Homo sapiens: one gene and its partner. The protein of the gene in region 1 interacts with the protein of each later gene in a pairwise test. Each region holds a gene or a part of one and is shown on either strand. Other genes may lie near its edges.

What was found. The genes of interacting proteins can lie anywhere in the genome.
Region 2: the proteins of FCHO1 (region 1) and EXOSC5 interact in binary tests that used the Homo sapiens proteins (3 or more experiments, as listed by UniProt).

Annotation. Positions count from the first base shown.
Region 1 is NC_000019.10:17,782,477-17,785,768, reverse strand, and holds part of FCHO1 (F-BAR domain only protein 1), read right to left. Parts: intron 2,861-3,292; exon of another isoform or gene 2,753-2,860; coding exon 2,597-2,752; intron 1,667-2,596; coding exon 1,534-1,666; intron 1,045-1,533; coding exon 845-1,044; intron 1-844. UniProt on the Homo sapiens protein: Functions in an early step of clathrin-mediated endocytosis. Has both a membrane binding/bending activity and the ability to recruit proteins essential to the formation of functional clathrin-coated pits.
Region 2 is NC_000019.10:41,390,860-41,394,359, forward strand, and holds part of EXOSC5 (exosome complex component RRP46), read right to left. Parts: intron 2,122-3,500; coding exon 2,008-2,121; intron 1,104-2,007; coding exon 982-1,103; intron 1-981. UniProt on the Homo sapiens protein: Non-catalytic component of the RNA exosome complex which has 3'->5' exoribonuclease activity and participates in a multitude of cellular RNA processing and degradation events.

The DNA.
Region 1 (3,292 bases):
TCCACCTCCCGGGTTCACGCCATTCTCCCACCTCAGCCTCCCAAGTAGCTGGGACTACAGGCACCCGCCACCATGCCCGGATTTTTTTTTTGTATTTTTAGTAGAGACGGGGTTTCACCATATTAACCAGGATGGTCTCGATCTCCTGACCTCGTGATCTGCCCATCTCGGCCTCCCAAAGTGCTGGGATTGCAGGTGTGAGCCACCGCACCCGGCCTGACTACTTTTTAAAATATTTTTTTGTAAGGCTGGGTGCAGTGGTTCATGCCTATAATCGCAGTCCTTTGGGAGGCCGAGGCGGGTGGATCACCTGAGGTCAGCAGTTCGAGACAAGCCTGACCAACATGGTGAAACCTCATGTCTACTAAAAAAACACAAAAATCAGCTGGGTGTGGTAGCAGGCACCTGTAATCCCAGCTATCCGGGAGGCTGAGGCAGAGAAAATCGCTTGAACCCGGGAGGCGGAGATTGCAGTGAGCTGAGATCGTGCCACTGCACTCCAACCTGCACGACAGAGCGAGACTTCATCTCAAAGTAAATAAATTAAATAAATAAATAAATAAACAAAATATTTTTTGTAGAGATGAGATCTCACCATATTGCCCAGGCTGGTCTCAAACTCCTGGCCTTAAGTGATCCTCCCACCTCAGCCTCCCAAAGCACTGCAATTACAGGCATGAGCCACTGCACCTGGCACTCATAACATCACCCTTAGTGCTAAGCAGGGTGGGCTCACAGTTAACGGTCAGGCCGAGGGTGCACCCTTTAATCAATGCATCAGGGAGAAGGTCTGGGGTTATGGGGGAAACTGCTGAGTTTTCCTTGGCCTCCCGCAAGCCCTCACCAGGTGGCAGCCGGCTGCAAGCGGACGTTGGTCACAGGCTCCCCCACAGGCAGCAGGATCTGGACGTTCGTGAGTGGTGTGGGCACAGCCGTGGCACCGGGCCGGTAGCCGTACTCCACTGAGACCTGGGTGAGGGTGGCTCCACACTGCCAGTGGGCACTGAGCTGCAGAGGCACAGACTGGGGACCCGGGCGGGAGAACTAGGAAGAATGAGAATGAGAGAGAGGACACAGCTTGGGCCATCCTGTCTTGCCACACCATGCGCTATTCAACCACCTTGACCCTGCGATGCACGCACCGCCCCAAGGGGGTCCAGTCACAGGGAGATTTGATGGATGAGAGGCTGTATTACACCAGGTTTCCAGCAGGGGGCAGGAGAGCGCCTCATTCTAACAAAGTCTCCCAGGGAAGTTCAAGTGTAAGGTTCCGGGGCTGGGCTGCTTCTAGTTCACATAAACATACTATCTGCAACAGGGGATGCACGCTCTTCCACACTGCCTACTCCTCCACCGTTCATTCCCGACCCACACTGCCTACTCCCTCCAGCTCATCGGCTCTCACAGATTGGATCTCTTGAGGTCAGGAATTCGAGACCAGCCTGGCCAACACGCAGGCGCCTCCATGTCTGCTGCCGGCTCACCGTGTCCCCCACTCCACCACCTCCTCCCGGCCCCATGCGGGTGGCGCACCTGGTATCGCAGCAGCACCACGTTGTAGTAGGAGGCAGTGGGGTTCTGCTCTGCCTGGCGCTGCAGGGCTTCGGTCAGAGCTGCCATGTTGAGCCAGAAGTCTTTGGTCTCAGGGTCACTCTGGGAGGGGTCACTGCAGAGACCCGGACTGATCACCCCAATCCTCGGGACATGCCCTCCCAGGGCTCCCAGCATTCAATCTACCCCTTCCTAAAGATGCAATTTCCTGGCCCACCCTGGGCCCAGCAAAGCCCTACCTGGGTGGTTGTGGTGCGGGCAGTAAAGGAGGGATGGAAAACAAGGGTCAGAGAGGGCAAGTTACTTGCCCCACGCCACACAGCAAATCCCAGGAGGTGGCTGGGTGTGGTGGCTCATGCTTGTAATCCCAGCACTTTGGGAGGCTGAGACGGGTGGATCACCTGAGGTCAGGAGTTTAAGACCAGCTTGACCAACATGGTGCAACCCCATCTCTACTAAAAATACAAAAATCAGCCAGGCATGGTGGCACATGCCTGTAATCCCAGCTACTCAGGTGGCTGAGGCAAGAGAATCACTTGAATCCGGAAGGCGGAGCTTGCAGTGAGCCGAGATCACGCCACTGCACTCCAGCCTGGGCAACAAGAGCAAAACTCCATCTCAAAAAAATAATAATTAAAAAAAAAAAATCAAGCCGGGTGTGGTAGCTCACGCCTGTAATCCTAGCACTTTGGGAGGCCAAGGCGGGCGGATTGCCTGAGCTCAGGAGTTTGAGACCAGCCTGGGCAACATGATGAAACCCTGTCTCTACTAAAATACGAAAGAAATTAGCTGGGTGTAGTGGCACGTGCCTGTAATCCCAGCTACTTGGGAGGCTGAGGCAGGAGAATTGCTTGAACCCGGGAGGCGGAGTTGCAGTGAGCCGAGATGACGCCATTGCACTCCAGCCTGGGCGACAGAGCAAGACTCCGTCTCTACAAAAAAAAAAGAAAAGAAAAAATCCCAGGAAGCAGAGAGGGAACTCAGAGTCCGGAAGCCTGATCCCCAGCAGCCTCCGAGGCCCTCTCCCACTGCCCCTCCATAGTACCTGAACAGCAGATCGGCGTTGGGCTGGAAGTGCTCAATAGCGGTTGTGTGTACAAGCCGGAAGCTGAGGACAGGTGGTGGTGGGGTCCCGCTGAACACACGCACGATGCCAGCAGGGAAGGTCATGGTCAGCTCCCCAGTTACTCGAGCCAGGCAGCTAGGGAGGATGAGGGGACTGGGTGTTGGCTTAGGGCTCTGCCTGGTGCCTCATCCTTCCCCTTCTCTTGGTTTCACTGGTGCCTGTGGCTCCCCAGACTCCTCGGATCTAGGAGGATGGCCCTGATGATCCCCCGTATCCTTTCCCCCAACCTCCTCTTTCATTCCTGCCTGGACAGGAAGAATCCACCCTGGGCTGAAGGAGGCAGGAACATCTCCATCCCTAGTTCTCTTTTCTCCTAGGCCACCAGGAAGCTCAAATTAAAATGTTCAGTTTTTTAGCTATCCTTTGCTTGGGTTTTTGATCTGACACTCTCCTCTTCTTCATGGTTTGACTTTCAGATCTTTTCTGCTGAAGGCCACCCCAATATATATCCCTGCACTCCGCTTGTCCCTAACCCACGCCCTTACCCACTTACTGGGCCTAACTTCTAGTATTACTCCCTTCATCTTAATGCCCACGGCAGCCTTGGCGTCTACAGCAATGCATAGCCCTGCTTAAATGCTCTCCTATGGCTGGGCACAGTGGCTCATGTCTATC
Region 2 (3,500 bases), about 24 Mb from region 1:
ATACCTTCTCTCTCTGCCCATCCATAAAATGTCTGTCCAGTTCAGGGCCACGTTCCAGTAAAGCCTTCTACAGTGTCTAATTCTAGTCCTCAACCTCAACCTCTCGCACCTCAGACATGGAGATCTTACAAGGCCACGCTCCTGACTCAGCTGCTGTCTGCTCAGGGCGCCCCCAGCACTGAGGGCCTGAAATCCACTGAGGTGCCGAGTAGAAGTGATTGCCAGCCGGGCACAGTAGCTCATGCCTGTAACCCCAGCACTTTGGGAGGCCAAGGTGGACTGATCACTCGAGGTCAGGAGTTCGAGACCAGCCTGGCCAACACAGCAAAACCCCGTCTCTACTAAAAATACAAAAATTAGCCTGGCGTGGTGGCAGGCACCTGTAATTCCACCTGTAATTCAGGAGGCTAAAGCATGGGAATCGCTTGAGCCCGGGAGGTAGAGGTTGCAGTAAGCTGACATTGCACCACTGCATCCAGCCTGGGTGACAGAGTGAGAGCCTGTCTCAAAAACAAACAAAAAAACCCAAAAAACAAAAGAAGTGATTGGCACAGGCTCTGGAGTCAGACTGGCCTGGGCTTGAGTCCTGCCTGTGCTGCCTTCCAGCTGTGTGACCTTGGGCAAGCCCCTTCCCCTCTCTGGGCCTCAGTTTTGTCACCTGAAACATGCGAACATAAGAACACTCATCTGCCAGGGTCCGTGGGCTCTAGAACTAGACGGTCTGGGTCTAAGTCTTGGCTCTGCCACTTCCACGGGGATCATAAGGGCATGTGCTATATTACATGAGTTAATGTGCATAAGGCACACAGAACAGTGCCTGGCACATAAGTAAGCACCCAGGCTGTTTGCTCTCCTTCTTCAGTGAGCTGGTACCTGTCAAGTGTTTGAAGGCTTTCTGGCTAGCAGTGAGGGTATATGTATCCGCCAGGAGGGAAGCAATCAGGAGACTTCCTGGAGGAGGAGGCCTGGCAGAAAGGATACAGAGCCGGCATCGCTGACAACCTGCAGCACCACGGTGATGGAGGTGCGGGGGTGCAACGTGCCCAGCACCACCGCCTCGCACGTGTTCCTGATCAGCCGCTCCCGGCTCTTCTCTGCAACACCTGGGGAAATTGAAGAGAGGTTCAGGGTCTTCCCCTTCATTTGACTCACCTTCCTCCATACGCCTCACCCAAATTCCCAGAAAGGGCTCACGGTCTCAGCCTGGGATGGTGCAGTTACCTGCAGGGATGATGGAAGATTCCAGTGGGAAGAAGGCAAGGCCTGACTGCCATCCACTGACCCCTGCTACCTCCAGCATCCACCAAGGGAACCATCCAAGGGAAGAAGACCTGGGAGTTCCATGTCTGTGCTGCTACCCACGCCCACTCCCACCCTAGCAGGTCCAGTCAGTGGGGACTGAGGGATATGAGGGTAAAAGGGTGGAAAAACAGGTTAATGGTCCAGGCACAGTGGCTCGCGCCTGTAATCCCAACACTTTGGGGGGCTGAGGCGGGCGGATCACTTGAGGTCAGGAGATCAAGACCATCCTGGCCAACATGGTGAAACCCCATCTCTACTAAAAAAATACAAAAAATTAGTGGGCATGGTGGCACGTGCCTGTAATCCCAGCGACTCGGGAGGCTGAGCCAGGGGAATTGCTTGAATCTGGGAGGCAGAGGTTGCAGTGAGCTGAGATCGTGCCACTGCACTCCAGCCGGGGTGACAGAGCGAGACACTGTCTCCAAAAAAAAAATAAATAAATAAAAATAAATAAAAGAAAAACAGGTTAATGGAATGAATGAGAGTGGAGGCAGAGAGAGGGAGAAAAGAGGGAGGGAGAAATTAGAGGCAGAGAGAGAAGCAACAGAAGATGAGTTATTAATTAGAGGCGGAGAGTTAAAGACAGAAACAGCTGAGTGGAGACCCAAGCGGGGAGTGGAGACTCGGGGCAGCTGGTAGGGAGGAGCTGGGGGGGTGATTTTGACAAACTGGGCACCACTCAGAGGTTCAGCAGGGCCCAATTACCAGGCAGCCCAATCTTCGGCCTCAGGATCACTTCGAGTGTGGCCTTGTTGAAAATCTCTTTGCTGACCTTCACCTCGGCCGGCCCGTACACACCCGCCAGGACAGAGGTGTCACCTGAGGAGACAGCAGGGAGGGCCTCACTCACAGCTTCCCTGCTCCTGGGGCCCCATTTGTGGCACTGAGCCTGACGGCCAGGGCTCCCCACGTCACCCCCGCCATTTGTTGGTACTGATTCTTTGAGCACTCACTTCATTTCTCTCATTTGTAAAATGGGGAAAATAGCAGTCCCTCCCCGCTAGCGTCTTGTGAGGATCAAAGGACACAATTCACAGAAAACACTTAGAACACTGCGGGGCTCACGCTGAATGTGCAACAGACTTTAGCTGTATTAGTAACATTCGTCCATTCAGGCATTCAGGCAGGGTCTCACTCTCATTGCCCAGGCTGGAGTGCAGTGGTGCCATCACGGCTCATTGCAGCCTTGACCTTCTGGGCTCAAGTGATCCTCCCGCCTCAGCCTCCCAAGTAGCTGGAACTACAGGCATGTGCCACCATGCCTGACTAATTTTTATATTTTTAGTAGAGAGGGGATTTTGCCATGTTGCTCAGGCGGGTTTCGAACTCCTGGGCAACTGTAATCCCAAGGTGCTAGGATTACAGGCGTGAGCTACCACGCCTGGCCCTGATATTAGTAATTTTTTTTTTTTTAATGAGATGGAGTCTTGCTCTGTCGCCCAGGCTGGAGTGCAGTGGCGTAATCTCGGCTCACCGCAACCTCTGCCTCCCGGGTTCAAGCAGTTCTCCTGCCTCAGCCTACTGAGTAGCTGGGATTACAGGCGCGCGCCACCACACCTGGCTAATTTTTTTATTTTTAGTAGAGACTGGGTTTCACCATGTTGGTCAGGCTGGTCTCGAACTTCCTGACCTCATGATCTGCCCGCCTCCCAAAGCGCTGGGATTACAGGCGTGAGCCACTGTGCCCGGCTGGTATTAGTAACTTTTAACAGGAAGTTCTTCCTGAAAGCTAACCATCCTCCCTCTTACTGCAGCTGCTCTCAACTTCTCTTTCCAAAGCTTCCCCAGCCCAGCTCTTCCCTTAGGCACTGGCCCCCAAATTTTGCATCAGTCTGGACACCTGAGAAAGGGATAATATCTGGAATGAATCCTGATTCCTTATTTCCCCAGAAGCTATGAACGGGGTACAGGAGGTAAAACCTAAGAAATAAACAGCCTGGCTTCTAGTACTGTCTGCTGTAATCCCAGCACTTTGGGAGGCTGAGGTGGGTGGATCACCTGAGGTCAGGAGTTTGAGACCATCCTAGTCAACATGGTGAAACCCTATCTCTACTAAAGATACAAAAATTAGCTGGGCATAGTGGTGGGTGCCTGTAATCTCAGCTACTTGGGAGGCCGACGCAGGAGAATTGCTGGAACCGGGGAGGCGGAGGTTGCAGTGAGCCGAGATCACACCATTGCACTCCAGCCTGGACAAT